Linked DNA regions of Homo sapiens. The protein of the gene in region 1 purifies or fractionates together with the protein of each later gene. This does not show direct contact. Each region holds a gene or a part of one and is shown on either strand. Other genes may lie near its edges.

Region 1 (5,491 bases):
ATAATCAAATAATATTACAGTATTTTCCTCATTTATTATTATTATTATTTTTTGAGATGGAGTTTTGCTCTTGTTGCACAGGCTGTAGTGCAATGGTGTGACCTCGGCTCACTGCAACCTCTGTCTCCCGGCTTCAAGAGATTCTCCCGCCTCAGCCTTGAGTAGCTGGGATTACAGGCATGAGCAACCACGTCCAGCTAATTTTATATTTTTAGTAGAGACAGGATTTCTCCATGTCGGTCAAGCTAGTCTCGAACTCCTGACCTCAGGTGATCCACCCGTCTCAGCCTCCCCAAAGTGCTGGAACACAGGCGTGAGCCACTGCAACTTGCCTTCCTCATTTAATAAAAACCTAAAAACACAACCTGCCTTGCATGTTTCAGCACGGTATACAGAACCCAAGAATCCTTCTCTGATCCAGCCAAAATGAGCAAGGTAGACTTTGATTCAGATCTGTAGTGCTTACTTCTTGGTAGTGCTTACTTCTTGATAGGGCCATCTGAGGAAACTCTTTTATTTAATCTGCTCACATACACGCACAGCCTCAAAAGACCAGTTAAAAAATATAAATGGGCTGGGTGCGGTGGCTCACGCCTGTAATCCCAACACTTTGGGAGGCCAAGGCAGGCAGATAACCTGAGGTCAAGAGTTCGAGACCAGCCTGGCCAACGTGGGGAAACCTCATCTCTGCTAAAAATATCAAAAAAAAAAAAAAAAAAAAAAAAAAAAAAAAATTAGCCGGGCGTGGTGGCGCACACCTGTAGTCCCAGCTACTCGGGGAAGCTGAGGCAGGAGAATTGCTTGAACCCAGGAGGCAGAGGTTGCAGTGAGCCAAGATCACACCACTGCACTCCAGCCTGGGCGACAGAGCGAGACTCCATCTCAAAAAAACAAAACAAAACAAAACAAAAACAACACACATATATGTGTATATATATGTATATATAAATGGATGGGATAAAGTAAACTAGTATAAAAAGAACAGAGTGTTGTCTGCTAAAATGCAATGAAAATAAACAGTGGCTCAGGCCTGTAATCCCAACACTTTGGGAGGCCGAGGTGGGCGGATCACGAGGTCAGAAGTTCAAGACCAGCCTGGCCAACATGGTGAAACCCTGTCTCTACTAAAAATACAAAAATTAGCTGGGCATGGTGGTGCGTGTCTGTAATCCCAGCTACTTGGGAGGCTGAGGCAGGAGAATCGCTTGAACCCAGGAGGCAGAGGTTGCAGTGAGCCGAGACCACGCCACTGCACTCCAGCCTGGCAACAGAGCAAGACCCCATCTCAAAAAATAAAATAAAATAAAATAAATAAATAAAAATAAAGAAAATAAAAATGTTCACCCTCACTAGTCACCTAAGAAATTTCGATTAAAACAATTTTTGGGTTTTTTGTTCTGTTTTTAAGAGTGACAAAATACTATATGGTATCCTGGTAATAAAGGTTTTCCTAAACTTTCCTAATACAGTTTCAGGAAAAGGGGCAGTTCACATAGTCATAGAAGTAGAAGTAGAAATTGACCTAACTTTCCTGGATGGAAATTTAGCAATAACTTTCTACAATGTAAATGTACATACTCTGAGACTTTGCAAGTCCACTTCTATGAGTCTATTCTATAAAGAAACCTCACATATAACCAAGGCACATCTTCGCATATAATAGTGAAAAACTGGAACCAACCTAAATTTTTCATCAGTTTCAATAGGAGAATGATACTATAATACATCTACACTGAAATACCAGTTGCTGTCAGGCAGAATGAAAAACAATCTATATGTTTTGTCGCAGAAATGTTTCCTGAAAAAAGCAAGCCACATGTGAATATGAATAATATGACTCCAGTTTTGTTAAAAAAAAAAATTCCCTTATATTCATGTTATTGTCTGTACAAGGAAAGACCTAAGATAAAGTAAATTTCTAAGGAGTGGTAGTGGAGAAATGAAAAGGGAGACAATTTACAGGCTTATTTGGATTTCTCTTTAATAAGTAAGTATGCATCACTTCTGTAATTTAAAAAAATATTTTTGTTTCAAATACTCAGCTCTAGTCCTTAATAAACTCCTCAGAATTTGCTCTTCAAACAAAGCAAACTGAAAGACCACCAAGATAATTAAGAAGCACTTGAGATAACAGAATCAGTAAAACTAATCACTGCCTCAATCCAGGAAGCCAAAGGAAAAAGGGGCTATTTCATTACAGTGCCACTCAGAAGTAAAGAATCAAGACGCTCTTAAGACACAGCACTTGGAAATAAAATTTGAAATTTCTCTGAAAATATGATGACTTCACTTTCAGGGTGAGTTTATATTTATACCCATTCACAGAAAATATTATTATGAACACAGTAAACGGCTAGGAATTAATAACATCCTTATATAGTATAAGCCAATACTCTTTTAATAAGCAAAACCTAGCTGGCAATTTCATAATACTTAAATACTAAATACAAAAAAGACATTAAGAAATCTGTTTCTAAAGTAGTTTAAGTGGTATAAACACTCCTCCCCGCAAATACTTCCGTTCTATGATCCTACGTAAATTATATACATTCTCTGATTCTATTTCATTTATAAATTAGGTATGAGAGCCCCTTCACCTCATGAGTTAAGATAATCACATGAGGATTTATAAGAACTAAGACAATATATTATTCAAATAGTACAAAATAATTTCATATACTATTCTTCTTAAGCTTAAGAGATACTACTTTTCAACAATGAGATTATATGTATTAATACAAAATTTTCCATTTTAATTATACTTTGGGGACCAAAAAATATTGGTATTGGTTTCTATTTATACTGTTAAAATTTAAAACTCATGCAAATACAAGAGAATGAACAGAACACAATTGTTAAACTGATTACCTTTCCCCCTTTTCAAAGTTAAGAGTTTCAGCCTACACTGTTCATGAAGTAATAATCCTCTCTCTAAACGCCCCCAATGAAGATTTATCAGCCAAATTACATGGATTGAAAGGAGTGCCTTAGCAAACTAGGTATTAAATCAAGAATGTGAAAAAACCCAATTCTATCATCAAGCTCAGTATTTGTTAAACACCTATACTTAAAATACTCATCGAAAAAAGTGCAAATATTAACATGGTTAATGGATTGGGTTACTTAAAATTATGAAACTCATTACTACTTCATTTATTTTTATTTTTACTTACTACTTCATTTTTAATGGTCCACAAGTTCTAGTTTTCCGTTTAAAATCTCATGCACTGGTAAAAAGCTTTAACATTTTGTACACAAGTTACCTTGGAGAAGAAAGTCGTCTCCTCTCTGGTTCTCGTCGTTTTCTTTCTAAGGATCGGCTCTTGGCTCTTCTCCCAGGAGACAGTGTCCGCGAGGGGGATTTGCTCTGCTTAGATCTTCTATCATTCAAAAGTGGAGACCTGCTTCTTCTTGATTTATCACGTGGTTTTGGAGACAAACTTCTTCTTTTAGGACTACGACCAGGTCTTCTGCTGGGTGACCTATTTTCTTTCCCAGATGAAGCATCTTTAGAGGGAGATTTAATTGGCTTCTTTTCTTTATCAGTTTCAGACCGTTTTGATTTTCTCTCTTTGGACCGTGACCTTCTGTCTTTGGATTTACCTCTTAAATCAACTGGGGATCTGGATTTTTTACCTCGATCGCGACTTCTACTTTCATTTATAATTGGGGATTTTTTCCTATCTTTTGATTTACTTTTATCTTCAATTTTAACCTTATCATCAGTAGGAGATCTGGCCTTACCAATTTTCTCTTGAGATCGCCTTCTAAGGGTAGGGGATTTTGATTTCCTTGCTTGATCTTGAGACTTACTTCTTTTGGATGGGCTTTTAGATTTTTTCCTCTCCTTTGACTTGCTCCTAGTTGTTTTCTCTTTAACGATTTCAATACCCCCCTTACTTTTCTTTTTATCAGACCTATGTCTAGTCCGTTCTTTGGATCTGCTTTTACTTCGTTTCTTTGTAGTAATTTTATTGTCCACAAGTTCAAGTTTCCCCTTTGTACTTGAAGATCTAGTACTAGACCTATTTCCATTTCTTGCCTTTTCATGAATTTCCCCCTCTTCTTCAGAGCCAGACTCATAACCTTGCAAAATGAGCCCCATACCAGACTGGACCTTTCCTTCCATTAACTCATTATCAAGTTCGGCCTTAATCAAGGCTCTCTGTTTTTCCAAGTCTTCTAGCAAAGCTAAATCATCAAGTTTAGTTCTTTTTGCTGGAGACATACCCTCTTTATCAGAAGCATCAATAATCTCTTTTCTTTTGTGTTTCTTATGTTTATGCTTATGTTTATGTTTTTTATCCTTGTCTTCTTCTGAGGAATGTTTATGTTTCTTATGTTTACTTCTGTGTTTATGCTTCTTTTTTTTGTGACGACTGTGCTTATTTTGAGACTGGTCTTCTGATACTTCTCCATTTTCTTCATTTATACTCTTTTCAGAATTAGCATCTTCCATCCTATAAATATATCAAACACATTTTAAAATCATATCATTTATCAAGTATTCAAAGAGCCATAAGAAAATAACAGTAATGAGAAAATACATCTCAATGTAATACATGAAGTCAGTCACTAAAATTTTTTCAGAACAGCTTCAGACATTTTATTTCAAAGAAGGTCTACGGCAAGAACTGAGTTGGATAGTGATACAACTTTATTGTGTTTCTAATGGTTGAACTCACCAAAAGTATTAGAGGAAATCCCTAATGGAGTGAGCTTAAAAAGTACAGGTTAGAGAAAAAGGGAAAAGCAAACCAGGCACAGCAAAACCTCATTAACATTGATTTAGTACAAGAAGCCACTCAGTAACTTAATTTTTAAACCAACATTTCTCACACATTAACAACCAAAGGGCCCGTTTTCTTTTTTAATAAGACCTACTAACTATTAACATACACTGGAAGACTAATCTCCTTCTCCACTTGAAATTCATGAAACTTGGTGTCTCTACAGTAAACCCAGCAGGTCACTTGTTTTGAGCAGATTTCATCTTATACCTTAAAAACAAAGCAAAACAAAACAAAACTCTAGAGCCAATACTGAGCTATACCCAAAATAAGCACTCAATCAATGTGCATTGGTAGCTGATACTGATGATGGTGATAGTATAAACACATCCTCACAAGTTGAATCTTCAAAGTGAACTAAACCGGAAGTTAGGACTCTAGGCTTGTAGTAAGCAATCATACGACATTAGGCTGAACCACATGGAAGGGCCTTTTGTAAGTCAACAAGTCTAATATCAGTAATTTAATACAGTACAGCCCAATATTCATTCAGCAAGTGATTTAATCTCTCTGAATTTCAAATGAGAACTCAGTTTCCCAAAATACATTTACATTAACAGATGCTATGGAAATAAATAAATAAAGTGGGGGATTCTGTGCTTAAATGTTTGGCTTATGCTGAGTTAAAAAGTTTATGATTCTAAATTACGTTGTCGAGCCCTTGGTGTTTAAGAATCCCAAGTTAAATACTGGTTCAAAAG
Region 2 (5,918 bases), on another chromosome or scaffold:
TGCTACCCACCATCACAAAAGAGTATCTTACCCATTGTATCACTAGCTCTGGAAAAGATCAAAGTGCAAAATTTGAAGTATGGTTTCTACAAAGTACACATTGCTTTCACATTACTGTAAAGCTAAAAAATTGGAAGCCAAACCATCATAAGTCTGAGATCATCTGTACAGGTTTTACAAAGGGGCTCACTGGTGAAGAGGTCCATTCTGTTCATTTTCTACATGAACTGATCATAGCCACAATAATATCAACATACATAAACTCAAGAATTTGATTTAGAAGAGAAATACATTAAACCATATTTATAAATCTATAGGTATAGTGCAAATTAATCTAGATGTTTGGGGTGTATTTATATCCCCAACTGCCTATGTAACTTGGACAAGTATTCAATCTGTATGTACCTGAGTTTTAGCACCTATAACTGTGCCATACTATATTATAGGCATTAGCCACTTTGGCTACTTAAATTTAAATTAATTAAAATTAACTTGAATTTTAAAAATTCAGTTCCTCAGTTGCACTGGCCACATTTCACAGGCTCAATAACCACATGTGCCTAGAGGTTACCATACTGGACAGTAGAAATATAATGATGAAAATAAACAGGATGATATGATTGAGAACAACAAGTAGGAACAAGGGGGTTGTATTGACTACTTTAGATCTAGATCAGGTGGTCAGAAAAGGCTGCCCTGAGTTGACATTTGAGCTGAGACTTGAATGACAAGATGCAACTAGCATGCAAAGATCTGCAAAAAGCATCCAAGGCATAGACAACAGTGAGGGCAAAAACCTTAGCCACAAATGTGGTTGGCTGGTTTAACAACAAAAAAGAGCGTCTGAAGCATAAGAAATAAGGGGAGAGGTGTATAAGGTCCAAGAAATGGCAGGAAGCAGAGTCTCAAGGGCCTTATACACCATTTAAGAACTTTGGATTTTACGTTAAGTGCAATCAAAAACCATTGAGTGTTATTAAAAGGGCAATGTTAGGCTGGGTGTGGTGGCTCATGACTGTAATCCCAGCACTTTGGGAGGCCAAGGCAGGTGGATCGCAAGGTCAGGAGTTCAAGACCAGCCTGGCCAACATAGTGAAACCCCATCTCTACTAAAAATACAAACATTAGCCGGGCATGGTGGCGCATGCCTGTAGTCCCAGCTACTCAGGAGGCTGAGGCAGAAGAATTACTTGAACCCAGGAGGTGGAGGTTGTAGTAAGCTGAGATCATGCCACTGCACTCCAGCTTGGGCAACAGAGTGAGACTTCATCTCAAAAAAAAAGGCAATGTTGTGATCTAAATTATGCCTTAAAAGCTCACTGTAACTACTGTTGAGAATTATTACAGGAAACCAAGAGCAAAAGCAGGAAGAATTGCTAGAAGAAGACACATATCATATCATAGCCCAGGTTGAGAAAAGATGGTGGCCTGGACCAGGAGAGTGGTAGAAGGATAAAGAAAATCTGTTCCTTTTTTCTACATTCCCTATCTACAATCCTGCATCTGCTATCCTTCACAGCCAAGCTCCTTGAAATAGTATATTTCACTTTTTAACCCCTTATCCTATAACTATGCTTTCTGCCTCCACTATCCTACTGAAACTGTCCTAAGGTCCAAGTTACCTCCACCTTCTCAAAACCAATAAGCATTTTTCTATCCTTTTCTTACCTGACCCCTGCTGCATTTGCAAAACTGCTGACCATTCCTCACCCTCATCAAGTTCTCGCCTTCCTCAGCTCCGAGGGCCTTACTCTCACATGATTTTCCTCTTTCTTTTACTCCTTCTCAGTCTTCTTCCCAGTAACCTCTACTTGACTTTTAAACACCAGTGCTCCTCTAAGCTTACAGCTTTAGTACTCAGTGCATTTCACAACATACATAATCCTTGAGACTGAACTGACACTTTTTGCTGTTAGCTCCCCAATTAACATCTCTGGCCCAGTACTCCCTACTGTTTAGACTATCTATATCTGGTGTTCAACCAGATGTCCTTACTTGGACATACCATAAACATTTAAAATGCAAAAGGTTGAAAATCTGTATCCTTCATTCTCTTATTACATATAGTTGCCCAAACCACAAGCCAAAGACTTCCTAAACTCCCCCTCACTTACTAGTTACAATGCCCATCACCAGACCTTCACAAGGTCCTGCAGATTCTAACTCCTTAACGTCTTTCTAATCTAGTCCTTCATCTTCATCCTACTAAGGTTCTTAATTCAAGCTCACATAATTTCTTGCTTGGATTACTGGAAGAGCTTCCCAATCCATTTCCCTTCTTCCAATCTCTCCTCCACTTTGCTACCAGAGCACATTACAGGTCTTCAACAAATGTTGTTGATTACATTAAGTACAAATCTGACAATGTCATTTCTCTACTTAAACTTTCAGAGAAACGCCACAATTTTCACAAGGCCTCTCATGGTCTAGCTCCTTATTACTACTACTGCCTCATTGCCCCAACTCTTCCTCTCCCATCCTCCTCTCCAGCCATTCAGCTTTTCTTAGTTCTCTAAATACCATGCCATTTCAGGCCTCCCTTCCTCTGCACATGCTATTACTGCTCCTTTACTCCTCTAACTAGTACTTCAAAGGTAGGCTTAAGTATCACCACTTCAAGAAAATGCCTCATGTATATCTCAGTCACACTGAATGGAAGTTAATGATTTGTCTGTAAACCAGAAGTTCCTACAGCAGGGTCCACCAACCTTATTTGGTTTGTAGCACCAATGACTGGCACAAAGTATGCAATCATTCACAGATGGGTTCGATTTGATATCTTCTAAATTTTCTAAAAAAGGGAGAGGAGCTTAGTGGGCTTTATATCACCATTCCGGTATAGCACAAAGTGAGAGCGCTGTACTACAAAGCCAAATGTGCTTCAGGTTGGAAATGCAAAAATAAAATAAAATAAAATAAAATAAAATAAAACACAAGGCACACCCTTTCAAAATGAAATGTACGAAATTCTGAAAGCCTATATAGTATCTAATAAACCAGCCTTGGAACTTTATACTACTTGGGGAAAGGCTTATTAAACACTTTGATGATAAAAATAGGTGGAAGGCTTCAATAAAGCAAATTAACCTTTCTTGGCTATGTCACTGTAATTTTAGTTCCTAATGTAGATTCTCGTTCACTTCCTGACAGGTTATTTTCCTTCTTTGAGAGAGTCTTACCTCAAGAGTCACTCATTTGTCAGCCATTTGTTCTCAAAATCTGAATGGGGGAAATGCAGATGAAAGAAGGGAGAGTGTGGGGGGATGATCAACACTTTCGGAATGGGAGGTAGCAGAAGGCCACAGTCTCCGGGATGGAAGAGAGTGGGAGCTGGGGCAATACCAGAGTGGAGCGCTGACATGTGGCAAGGAACGGGGAGGATGCGATCACGGAGCAGGCAACATGAAACAGGGAACGACCCCAGGCTGAAGATGGGAGACGGAGAAGATACTCAGAGAGAAAGCTAGGAATGTGTGGGGGTGGGGGGAGGGAGGGAGAAAGCGGTGATAGGCAGAGGCGAGAGGAAACAAGACGCAGTTTTTAGCCAGGGGTCAGAGGGCCTAAGGAGAAAAGCTGGGTCGAGAGGAAGACAACACAAATGGGGCTTCAGGACGAGGTGGGCAGGGTGTCATCCCGGAGCGGAGGGGAGGCACGGGGAGAACTGGGGGTCCAGAGGGCAGAGGCAGGAGGCGCAGAGCGAGTAGGAGACTCGAACCCGTGAGCAGAGGCCGCGGGTGACGAGGGAAGGAAGGGCGAGGCCAGAGAGGCACTTACTGGGGTCCCTCCGCAAGGCGCCGCTGAGGATCTCCTCCCGCAGGTGAGGAAAGAGGAAGTCCCGGGCGGCCTGGAGGTCCTGGAAGTAGCAGAACTGGACAATGGAGCAGGCCATGGCTCCAGGGAACCCCACTACGGCACTCACCTTACCTCACCACGCCCTGCCCCCTCCACCCCACTGCGGCCGCCACCGAGCCCCAATAGCTCTAGCCAAGCAGAAGGCGGAGAAACCAAACCGGAAGCTGTCACTGACACGGGTCCGCTGTCTCCGAGTACTGCGCAGGCGCAGGCTGGCCCAGGCGCCTAGGGCGCGGGGGCCCGGGTCACGTGACTACGGCGCCGCCGCTGCAGGTGGAGCCAAAGTCGACGTGGAGGCTTGGGGCAGATTTTTCAGTCCCAGTTGTGTGTCTACGCCGAGGCATGAACCCTTTCATTCATTCTGGCTTTTAGCCAGAGGTGTTCTAATTGGACTTGTCCGCGCAGCCCTTTGACTTATTCAGTCTTATTGGTCCCCTACTATTGGCACGATCCTGATGTTTCACAGAAACTAATTCGTTTTAAACTAGTGGCAGGCCAGTGGGGGACCGTATCCTGCAAGAGTCGGATTTTGAAAAGATTAATTGCTCTTCCGGAGATTAGCCCCGTCAAGGCTGGCTTTAAATGCTCCTACTATAGATTCCCATAGTACTACGCAAGCCCAATATAGTACGTGTTATAGTGTATTATACACTTTTGTTTTCATTATTCATTTGGTTTTTCATTCATGCATTCATCCATCCATTCAACAAATATTTGTTAGTCTTTTAAATGCCAGCCACGCAGGGTGCTGAGCATTAGAGAACAAAAGAGAAGAAGTACCTTTTCCCAGAAAGCTGGAATTCTAGTGACTGATACAGGCAGTAAGCAATTAATTACAGTATTTCCCTTTAATCCAAGGGGATATGTTTTAAGATCCCCAGTGGATGACTCAAACCATGGATAGTACTGAAACCTATGTATGTGTATTATGTTTTTACCTATACATATATATGATAAAGTTAAATTTATAAATTAGGCACAGTGAAAGATTAACAATAACTAATAATTAAATTGAATAATTATGTGGAAAATGAACCCATGGATAAAGGGGGGACTACTGTACTTAACTATTTAACTGAAATTGTGATCATGCTAGTAAGTGCTTCATAAATATTTGCTGAAGAAATAAATGGAATGCATACATAAAGTAAATAGAATAACTTGTTTCTTTGACAAAGCACTATTTTTGAAAGTACTTTACATTGTTCATTTGGATAGTCACAAATGCCATCTAAAAATAGTGTGTCTTATCCCATTTTTAAAATAAAGAAATTGAGCTGTCTCTGAGCAGACTTTAAGTTATTTTTCCAAAAAATAAAAACAAAAAAAATTATTTTAATGTGAGCACAAAGGCCTGTAGGCACTTACACATTTCCTAAAGGAAACCTAAAGAGGCCATCCACTTTGTATGAAAAAAGGGCACAGGAACAAATGAAAGGCAAGTGGATGGGGTCCAGAGCATTCATTTCTGTCAGGCCCGTGGACATACACACTTAGTCCTAATAATATAACAACTATAATTTAGTGCCCAGGTTCCTACTCCATTATTTCCTACTTCTAGAGTAGGATGATTTTCACAAAATAGGATAGGCAATTTCTATGTTATCAGGTTAACAGGAATCAGTTCTTCACCTATAAAAGGCAGTTGAATCAGATGTGCTGTAAGGTCCCTTTAAGCATCAGGGACCTATACTTCTGTAATCAAAGCTTTCAGAAAAAGCAAGCTGCCAGTGCTCCCTTCTTCCATCTGAAGAAATGCAGTGTTTCCTCAGATCATCACTAACTAGAATAATCCAGCCCTGATAAGATTATTCCCTAAAATCCAGCACCAATCCCAAACTAAACCAAAATTTAAATTTAGATTCTTAGTGTTACTGGACGAATAACAAACACATGACACTTTCTGGAAGGAGACTGTCATTCCTTGAAAACCATTCAAGTTCCTATTCAGGTAAATGCATTTTGTGGAAGTAACTGCTGTTGGCTGATTTTGCTGGCCTTTGTTCTTCCCTGAGGCATTCATATGTCTCCTGTGGTGGTCATTGAATTTCATTACTGTGTTGGCT
Region 3 (5,165 bases), on another chromosome or scaffold:
CACACACTGGCTTATGATAAGGGCTGGCGTGTCAGAACTGACTTTAAGCAGTATCAGGTATGTAGAGGGAGCAGATTTTCCCTGAGTCAGGAAAATCCATGGCTATCCCCGAAACTTGGGGCAATAGGCACCCAGAAGCTTGACCGTGCCTGCCTTGCCATCTAGGTTTTGAAGCAGAATCCGTTCTGGTGGACACACCAGCGGCATGATGGGAAGCTCTGGAACCTGAACAACTACCGTACAGACATGATCCAGGCCCTGGGCGGTGTGGAAGGCATTCTGGAACACACACTCTTTAAGGGCACTTACTTCCCTACCTGGGAGGGGCTTTTCTGGTGAGGATTCTCCTCTCTTAGAGGGACCTGTCACAACCCTTTGAGCTCATCTCTTGTATGCCTCTGTGATTTCCTGTGGTGTTTCCCAGACAGCCACCTCCAGGAGGTTAGCAGTGTGCTGGGAAATGGCAGGATATCACCTCACCTGCTTCTCTTGCTCCCCAGGGAGAAGGCCAGTGGCTTTGAGGAATCTATGAAGTGGAAGAAGCTAACTAATGCTCAGCGATCAGGACTGAACCAGATTCCCAATCGTAGATTCACCCTCTGGTGGTCCCCGACCATTAATCGAGCCAATGTGAGTGTGATTGACACTGGAGAGGGGAAGCTAAAGACAGTTGCTGCTTCTTGCCTTGGTTATGTCGTGAGCGCCCGAGTCTCTTGATCTCTAATGTCACATTGTCGTTTTCCTGGCAGGTATATGTAGGCTTTCAGGTGCAGCTAGACCTGACGGGTATCTTCATGCACGGCAAGATCCCCACGCTGAAGATCTCTCTCATCCAGATCTTCCGAGCTCACTTGTGGCAGAAGATCCATGAGAGCATTGTTATGGACTTATGTCAGGTGGGCTGGAATCGAGGGGAGAGGGTACTGTAGAGAGTCAGCTCAGGTGGAATTGAGGGGAGAGGGTACTGTACAGAGTCAGCTCAGGTGGAATCGAGGGGAGAGGGTACTGTACAGAGTCAGCTCAGGTGGAATCGTGGGGAGAGGGTACTGTAGAGAGTCAGCTCAGGTGGAATCGCAGGGAGAGGGTGCTGTACAGAGTCAGCTTAGGTGGAATCGCGGGGAGAGGGTGCTGTACAGAGTCAGCTCAGGTGGAATCGCGGGGAGAGCGTGCTGTACAGAGTCAGCTCAGCTTGCTCTTTTGCATATGGGAAATCCACCCTGGAAGCTCTGAGGATGAGACTCCTATTGCCTCATTATCTTATTGTACAAACTCTGATTTTAATTGGGCTTCCTTAACAAGTCTTAATCTCTCCATGTTTTCCTTCAGGTGTTTGACCAGGAACTTGATGCACTGGAAATTGAGACAGTACAAAAGGAGACAATCCATCCCCGAAAGTCATATAAGATGAACTCTTCCTGTGCAGATATCCTGCTCTTTGCCTCCTATAAGTGGAATGTCTCCCGGCCCTCATTGCTGGCTGACTCCAAGTAAGTGCCTCAGGACCCAGCCCTAGGCAGCCAGGACACTTTCGTTTTCCTGTTCTTCTAGCCCTGCAACTTTAGGAATTGTCCTGTCTGCCTTTGTTTCAAACTTGGAGCCAGTGCTACGCTTGGAGCCTGTCAACACCCTTAGTCAGATCTGCTGATTCTCTGGGGTCCTGCTGACCTGGAACAAGTTGGTGGAGTGGGTGGGATGGTTTTGGGATTTAAGTGGTTCTGGTTCTGGGGACATTGGTTATGCCCATGGTTTCTTAGAAGCTTGAACCCTCTTCATCCTCAGGGATGTGATGGACAGCACCACCACCCAGAAATACTGGATTGACATCCAGTTGCGCTGGGGGGACTATGATTCCCACGACATTGAGCGCTACGCCCGGGCCAAGTTCCTGGACTACACCACCGACAACATGAGTATCTACCCTTCGCCCACAGGTGTACTCATCGCCATTGACCTGGCCTATAACTTGCACAGGTGAGTTGAGGCTCAGGACCATGTATTTTCAGGCCAGGCGCAGTGGCTCACACCTGTAATCCCAGCACTTTGGGAGGCCGCGGTGGGCAGATTGTCTGAGCTCAGGAGTTTGAGACCAGTCTGGGCAACATGGTGAAACCCTGTCTCTACCAAAATACAAAAAATTAGCTGGGCGTGGTGGTCCACGCCTGTAGTCCCAGCTACTCAGAAGGTTGAGGTGGGAGAATTACTTGAACCCGGGAGGCGGAGCTTGCAGTGAACCGAGATTGCGCCACTGCACTCCAGCCTGGGCGACAGAGTGAGACTCCATCTCAAAGAAAAATAATAATAATAATAAATAAATAAATAATCCGTGTATTTTCCATTAGCTCCATACTTTAACGTAGTCATACTTTTTTACTTTACCTAAGTGAGAGGAAGTGGCCCATTCCTCCTATGGGTCACTGATTCTCTTCTCCAGCCTGTATGTACACATGAGCAGAGTGTTGTCAGCCTGGCGAACAGTCTTTCTTCCTCTGTAGAGTTGGCAGCTTGTCTTGTTTCTGGGGCTGTCATTCTCGTCTTAACTTTTCTTGACCCTTTTATCCTCACAGTGCCTATGGAAACTGGTTCCCAGGCAGCAAGCCTCTCATACAACAGGCCATGGCCAAGATCATGAAGGCAAACCCTGCCCTGTATGTGTTACGTGAACGGATCCGCAAGGGGCTACAGCTCTATTCATCTGAACCCACTGAGCCTTATTTGTCTTCTCAGAACTATGGTGAGCTCTTCTCCAACCAGATTATCTGGTTTGTGGATGACACCAACGTCTACAGAGTGACTATTCACAAGGTGAGTGTTAGCAGCAGTGTATAGGTGCGGGACTCTGTACATGGCTGTGGGAGAGTAATGGGCTAAGTGTGTACACATGCTGGGAAGAAGGCAGGATGGGGATGTGTTGTGTAGGCCATGCTAACGAATGCCGTCCTCCTCTAGACCTTTGAAGGGAACTTGACAACCAAGCCCATCAACGGAGCCATCTTCATCTTCAACCCACGCACAGGGCAGCTGTTCCTCAAGATAATCCACACGTCCGTGTGGGCGGGACAGAAGCGTTTGGGGCAGGTGAGCAGGTTTAAAGATGAAGAGGCTGTAGAACCATGTTGCCTCTTATTCTTGGGGTGGACTTGGTAATATTTACTGGTTTATTAGATGAAAGGCTGAGAACATCTCATTTGAACTTATCCCCAAAATACCTTGGGAAGTATTCTGTGGGAGGTCCAAGAGTGTATGAGGTGCTTCGTTCCCTTCCAGCTGGTCTGTTTCCTGAATTTCTAACCTTGAACAGGGCTATCAAAAATCATTTTTCCAAAGGCAACGCATACTCTTTTTTTTTTTTTTTTTTTTTAGCCGGAGTCTCGCTGTGTGGCCCAGGCTGGAGCACAGTGGCTCAATCTCGGTTCACTGCAAGCTCCGCCTCCCGGGTTCACGCCATTCTCCTGCCTTAGCCTCCCGAGTAGCTGGGACTACAGGCGCCCGCCACCACGCCTGGCTAATTTTTTTTGTATTTTTTAGTAGAGACAGGGTTTCAACGTGTTAGCCAGGATGGTCTCGATCTCCTGACTTTGTGATCTGCCTGCCTCTGCCTCTGCCTCCCAAAGTGCTCGGATTACAGGTGTGAGCCACTGCTCCTGGCCAGCAATGCATATTCTCTTTTTTTTTTTTTTTTTTTGAGACGGAGTCTTGCTCTGTTGCCCAGGCTGGAATGCAGTGGCCTGATTTCAGCTCACTGCAAGCTCCGCCTCCCAGGTTCACGCCATTCTCCTGCCTCAGCCTCCCGAGTAGCTGGGACTACAGGTGCCCGCCACCACGCCCGGCTAAATTTTTTGTATTTTTAGTAGAGACGGGGTTTCACCATGTTGGCCAGGATGGTCTCAATCTCCTGACCTCGTGATCCGCCCGCCTTGGCCTCTCAAAGTGCTGGGATTACAGGCTTGAGCCACCGTGCCCGGCCCAGCAACGCATATTCTTGAAACATCCACTTTGACCAAATCTCTTCTCTACCTCACAACTCTTGCTGAATTAACTCTTCTTTAGCTTCCTAGACGTTCAACATCTGGCTGGGCTGTATCTGTCCAGCCAGTTTCTCTTCCTTTACATTTATAGCATGTTTCATCTTACATTCAGTCCAGGATCTTAGTAGCCCAAACCCCTGATGCTCATCTCCAAATCTGTGTTTTGCTTGTATTTTTCTTTCTAGAATGAACTCCCCTCTTTGCTCTGTTAATCACAGTCCCTCCTTAAGACACGTTTTTTTGTGCAGCTTTTTTCTGATCCTAGTAGCCTTAATTTCTTTTGTTCCTGAACTCTGTAAAACAGTGTATAGTTTAGCACATACTCATGTGTCAGCTTGTGGTATTGTCTTGTTGAAAGGGGCTGTCAGCCTGGTCATTGGACACGGCCATTTGATACTCTTTGTACCTTCTAAGTGCCTAACATTTAACATCAGTGTTCAATAGAAACGTAGTTGGATTATTTCAAAACTAGGATATTCTGTTCTAGTTGATCTGGGAGGGTAGAGACTAAATTTCCATTTTCTTCTCTCTTGCTTTTAAGTTGGCTAAGTGGAAGACAGCTGAGGAGGTGGCCGCCCTGATCCGATCTCTGCCTGTGGAGGAGCAGCCCAAGCAGATCATTGTCACCAGGAAGGGCATGCTGGACCCACTGGAGGTAAGAGGGTGGGGTGGGGTAGGAGAAAAGAGACCTTGAGACCTTCAGGCTGTTTCTCATCTTGGACTTGATCTTGTCTTAGGTGCACTTACTGGACTTCCCCAATATTGTCATCAAAGGATCGGAGCTCCAACTCCCTTTCCAGGCGTGTCTCAAGGTGGAAAAATTCGGGGATCTCATCCTTAAAGCCACTGAGCCCCAGATGGTTCTCTTCAACCTCTATGACGACTGGCTCAAGACTATTTCATCTTACACGGTATGAACCTCGGGAAGAGAAGATCGCTGGAGGAGGAGCGGGTTTAGGGTTAGGAGAAGATCCTGTGTCAGGTTTTTGCCATTTTCACATTTTTAGCCTATAGATTGGGTGGGAACTCTGTTGACTTTCATGAGAGTTTAAGACCTTAAAGTTAAAAATCAACTCTTGGGGCCGGGCGTGGTGGCTCACGCCCGTAATCCCAGCACTTTGGGAGGCTGAGTTGGGTGAA
Region 4 (5,165 bases), about 40 Mb from region 1:
ACGGGGGATGGAGGTATTTAAAGCATGTCCTTTTCATAACACTTAATCTAAACATGCATCTCCTAATCATACATTTCAGTTGTTTATGAATACCAACAGGGAAAAATAAGTTCATTATTTGTCCATGATACACAGCACCTAACAACTACCTAAATCTCAAGAAGAAATATTCCAGCTCAATCATACCTTTTTCAGCTCTTCTTTGGAGAACTTTTCATAAGGATTATGTTCCAGATAGGTAATGTGCTCTGAATTATTGGTACCAAACCCTACAGTTTTGCCTTTTTTATTTCCAGATGGTTCATAAGGGTGATGTAGAAGGTCATAATGAAGCATTGTGATCATTTCTTTTTTGATTAGTTCTTCACTTTTCTGTAAATCTGTTAAAGGCGGTTCTACATTTAAGGGTCTTAGAATAGTTTCATTTACCTAAAATTTTAAAACAAATACAATTACCAAACATATCACTATAATATATTAATGTTATTACCTGTTACAGCATGAATTAAACAGCGGTTTTACATTTTCAAAAGCAATTTCCATTTTTTTCCTTCTAAATTCTTTCTGGTACTACTGAAACATTTTAAAGATTGGATTTGAGAACTACTTTGCTATATTCCAGAAAGTAGATGAAATTTTGTTTTATAGTCTTTATGAATGATGTAAAACGCAGCAATCATATAAAAAGAAACTTAAAACTTCCTAAACCAGAAATTCTAACACTTACTTCTGATGGTCTTGGCAGATCTTTCTGGACAGCTTTATGCATTCGTTTCATTTCCTTTACACGCTCTGCATCTCGTATGGCCTAAAAAATGATTTTTATATCCTTTATTGCAGCTATAGCGTATTTGATATCTCTCAGTAAAGCTAAAAACACTTTGGTATGTAAGATCATGTGTGTTCAATAGCTAAAGTTTAGAAATCGGTTTAAGTTTGTAGAAAGGCAATGCTAAGGCAACAGAAATGAATCAGTCTATTCACTCTCATTATAATAGAAACTAAGAGCTTCCAATGTCTACTAGAGCATTCTCCAAACTTGCATGGATCCATATCACGTAACAAACTTTTCTCATCTAAATGGAAAACCTAAACTCCAAAGAGACTCCCACGACAAAACTCTTTCTTCCCTTTCACTCCAAAATTACTGACTTTTAACTCAAAAAGCCAGCCAAAAAATGTATTGTTTCCTGATTCTTATGAATAATGTGGGATAACACATTAAAATTTCATGCCATTTCTGAAGGAGTAAATGTAACTCAAAGTAGCTGAGAACTAAACACAAAAAGTATCATCCTCTGTTCCCCACTGAAAAGCACATTTACATGGGTCCCCTCTAAAATATTGTTTCCACTGATGTCATTCTCACTCCAATCCCCTGAGATTCAAGGTCCCTAAAATCATCCAGCAATGGACTGCAGCTACTGAAAGGGGTCATAAAATATCAGTTCTAGTTTAGGATTCACCACTTACCCACCATGAGACCTGAGAAAGTTGAGACCATGAGACCTCAATTCATCTGAGCTTGTTGAGTATTCCTTACTAGAAATATCTGGGCCCAGAGTATCTTGGATTTCTGATTTTTTCAGATTCTGGAACATCTGCATTATACTAACTCTAATCCAAAAAGCTTCAATGAGCATTTCTTTTGAGCTTCATGTCGGCACTCAAAAAGTTTTGAATTTTGGAGCATTTCAGGTGTTGGATTTTTGGATTAGCAATGTTCAACCTGTAATACCGATCCTATTTATATCACTGTGCTGTTACGTGCAAATGAGAAAGTAATTACGTATAAGATATATTAGTACAAAGTGTTACTAATATTATTTTGACACACTCTATCTAAATTTCCAACTCCAGTTTAGATAGAGGTCTTACTATGTTCCCCGGACTGGATTCAAACTCCTGGGCCCAAAGAATCCTCCCACCTCAGCCTCTCGAGCAGCTGAGACTACAGGCTCGTACATCGCACCACCCAGGAACCAAGATGTATTTGTTTTTAAGACTAACCAATAACATCTTTTCTTTGCTAGATTGAAGCAATGTCTAAAAGACTACCTATGTGTATTTTAGAGAAGCATAATGAATTTGACAGAATGTATTTAAATTTCCATATATATATTTTTAAGAATGCTCATCAAAATATTGTGAGTATGTTAATTATGTGAGGATACATTATTAATGACATAAGTTATTTACTTTAGAAGTTTTTTCAATATTAAAAAGGACTAGGTAGAGATCTTGGGACATTTAATGGCTATTCTTCATTCTTCCAGCCTACTGACACATTCAGCCAAACTCACGCTTCTTTCAGTACAGTTACCCACCTGCTTTCGAGCATCCACATCAGCAGCATCTTCAATGTAAGTATCATCTATTTCACGTTCTTCCAGCTCCTTCTCGGCATTTTCTGGTAGAACAATTTCAAAATCATTCTTAGGGGCAGGAAGGCCCAACAACCCTAAACGGAGATGTTCTCGGGATTCTCTTTCCTGTAGAAAAGAAGTGGTCCTTCTCAATTCATGCATATTAAACATTCCACCAGTATTTTATGAGTCTCTTAAAAATTGATAGCACAACAGGGTGACTCTAGTCAAAATAACTGTACATTTTAAAATAACTAAGAATAATTGGATGGTTTCAAACACAAAGGTTAAATGCTTGAGGGGATGAATACCCCATTTTCCACGATATGATTATTACACATGCATGCCTGTATCAAGATATCTCATGTACCCCATAAATATACACACCTACTATGTATCCACAAAAATTAAAAATTACAGAAAGAGAAAAAAAGTCTCAAAAAAAATCAGCCTAATATTAATTCTAGAAAAATAATCCTGACTTCAGAGCTAAGACAAGTCTTATGTTTATTTTCTATCCCCCCTTCTTCCCAACATTAAGACCAACCAAAAACTTTCACTTGTGATCACTGAAGATACTCTGGGATATTCCAACAGGAGGTCTGAGGCCAGGGCAGAAAAAAAGACCACTTTGAGGGAACACATTTCTGACACCGAAAGTTAACAGCAAATGAAAAGAACAGGTTCAAAAGTTAGTTTGTCCTTGGACTAATAAAATCCACTCTAAAAGATACTTGAATTTGTATGTATGTGTTTATTTTTAATGGAAATACTAAATCCCATGCAGAAGAAAGAAAGTAGAGTCCTGGTTCCCAAAAAAGCCTCCTGGTACCCAGAGTTTTCCCATCCATCCTCAGTGCTTACATGTACCAGGTGTGAGGAACAGATGAGTTGCTATATCTAAAACATCCTCCATGCTTACTCATATTGTAGTCTCCATCTGAGACAGCCCCCACCCTCCTTCAGAACATAGCTCCTCTAATAAGGCTTTCCTGTTACCCAACAAATGTGACTATTCCCTTCTTTAACTACCCTAAGCACACTGGTTTTACTCAAAGGGCTTATTCTGTTCTGATATTGCAATTATTTTTGGACTTAGTTTAGTACTGTCAATCTCCCCAGAATATAAATTTCCTTAGGACAAAGGACATCTTTATTCAACTTTAGATCCCCTCAAATGTCCAAATGCATGCTCTGCATGCATGAGGTTCTTAATCTATTTAATTCTTATGTATCCATTCAGAGTTGGCTTTAGTTGATATCAATTTGAACTTTAAAAAACATATATAAATCAACCAAATATATACATGAGGTTAGAATTAATTTTAAACTGAAGACAAGCCAGTATCATTAGAAGTTTTTTTTTTAATTTCACAATGATTTCTGTGGCATTAGATAATAAGGCCCAATAGCAAAGTAATAAACGCAGTAACACGGGCAGAAGCAAAACTTAACTTTTTACAGTTAGCTTTCTACCTCAGCTTGCTAAAGAAAACTTCAGTGAAATCAACAACGAACATCAATATTCACAAACCTAGTAAGCATAAAGAAAGGTGGGTTTTGAGCCCAAAATATTCCCTTTCATCAAGTCTTACAAATAATTCTTTTTCTGGCATCCACAGGTGTATAGATTCTTAAGGTATATGTGATATGCACTAACAGGAGAAATTTTAATTTGGCATCCATGAGATATTAAAAAAAAATTTAAGAGTATTAAAAGGGAATTGACATTTACCATCTGCTTCACGTAAGAGGGATCACTATAGTCTGCCATTCCATCCTCGGGATTAATGTTTAACTTGTCTCGAAGAGGAGTTCTACCCGGAGTAGAGTTAATAACTGGTTTGGGAGTTGTTCCACTCCGGGGAGTCAGCCCTTCAGCTCCATTAGAAGGAGTCCTAGAAAGACAGGAATCCCAATTAACAGAAGTGCCACTTACATTTGGATTGTGCTTTCAAATGTTTTTCACATAAATTATTTCACAGGAAATATAGAAAAAAAAAAGAATAAAGATTTCAAAATTCTGTCCAGCTGGTTTTGTTAGGATCTCTAGGTTAAAATCAATGTTTGGTCTAGCTAGCATGGTATTTTTATTTTACTGACTTACAATAATCACTACATTTGATATTTTCTTGCCTTCCTAAACTACGTCCACTAAACATTATTTCAACCTTTTCTTGGCACATTAGGGCGACTAAGAACATGCAGTGGGCAGGGAGGTGGGCCACCACACTCAATGACCCCAGATGACTCTTTGAGTTTTGTGTATATTTGTCTCCTCCCTCCCTATCAAGCTGTTGGTTCTCACATCACTATCACTGTCATTATTACAAATGTACACACTTTATTAAATAGTTCCTCCTTTTACATTTTGTTTGGAAACCAAACACCACACTTTTGAAATCACATCTAAACATGAGTAAGTTCCTGAGTGAGGCCTAAGAGATTCTCCTAGGAATAAGATCCACAGATTTTGCAGCAACCTATATTTTAATTATTCAAAGTCTTTTTTTTTCCTGGTTGCCTATTTCCTGTATATTGGTGTGTTGCAGAACGGTGATGCTGCCAGACAGCTATTCCTGATAGGTAAGGTGTTATCACATAAGACATGGTTCCCACCCCCAAGGATTTTACAATCTAGGTGAGAGACAAGACATACAGTTGTCCCTAAGTATCCACCGGGGATTGGTTCCAGGACCAATACTCAACTCCCTGCAGATACTCAACTCCCTGATATAAAACGGCATCGTATTTGCATATAACGTATGCACATCCTCCCATGTACTTTAAATCATCTCT

The links. The genes of interacting proteins can lie anywhere in the genome.
Region 2: the proteins of PRP4K (region 1) and RAB3GAP2 fractionate together in Homo sapiens (co-fractionation; one large-scale study listed by BioGRID). This does not show direct contact.
Region 3: the proteins of PRP4K (region 1) and PRPF8 purify together in Homo sapiens (affinity purification with mass spectrometry; 4 studies listed by BioGRID and IntAct, with this or other methods). This does not show direct contact.
Region 4: the proteins of PRP4K (region 1) and CDC5L purify together in Homo sapiens (affinity purification with mass spectrometry; 2 studies listed by BioGRID and IntAct, with this or other methods). This does not show direct contact.

Annotation. Positions count from the first base shown.
Region 1 is NC_000006.12:4,030,528-4,036,018, reverse strand, and holds part of PRP4K (serine/threonine-protein kinase PRP4 homolog), read right to left. Parts: intron 4,461-5,491; coding exon 3,264-4,460; intron 1-3,263. UniProt on the Homo sapiens protein: Serine/threonine kinase involved in spliceosomal assembly as well as mitosis and signaling regulation. Connects chromatin mediated regulation of transcription and pre-mRNA splicing.
Region 2 is NC_000001.11:220,268,449-220,274,366, forward strand, and holds the start of RAB3GAP2 (rab3 GTPase-activating protein non-catalytic subunit), read right to left. Parts: upstream 4,006-5,918; 5' UTR 3,890-4,005; coding exon 3,775-3,889; intron 1-3,774. UniProt on the Homo sapiens protein: Regulatory subunit of the Rab3 GTPase-activating (Rab3GAP) complex composed of RAB3GAP1 and RAB3GAP2, which has GTPase-activating protein (GAP) activity towards various Rab3 subfamily members (RAB3A, RAB3B, RAB3C and RAB3D), RAB5A and RAB43, and guanine nucleotide exchange factor (GEF) activity towards RAB18.
Region 3 is NC_000017.11:1,656,163-1,661,327, reverse strand, and holds part of PRPF8 (pre-mRNA-processing-splicing factor 8), read left to right. Parts: coding exon 1-57; intron 58-165; coding exon 166-335; intron 336-500; coding exon 501-630; intron 631-749; coding exon 750-896; intron 897-1,326; coding exon 1,327-1,487; intron 1,488-1,779; coding exon 1,780-1,971; intron 1,972-2,564; coding exon 2,565-2,802; intron 2,803-2,946; coding exon 2,947-3,075; intron 3,076-4,566; coding exon 4,567-4,680; intron 4,681-4,762; coding exon 4,763-4,936; intron 4,937-5,165. UniProt on the Homo sapiens protein: Plays a role in pre-mRNA splicing as core component of precatalytic, catalytic and postcatalytic spliceosomal complexes, both of the predominant U2-type spliceosome and the minor U12-type spliceosome.
Region 4 is NC_000006.12:44,421,746-44,426,910, reverse strand, and holds part of CDC5L (cell division cycle 5-like protein), read right to left. Parts: intron 4,265-5,165; coding exon 4,102-4,264; intron 2,493-4,101; coding exon 2,328-2,492; intron 809-2,327; coding exon 728-808; intron 430-727; coding exon 187-429; intron 1-186.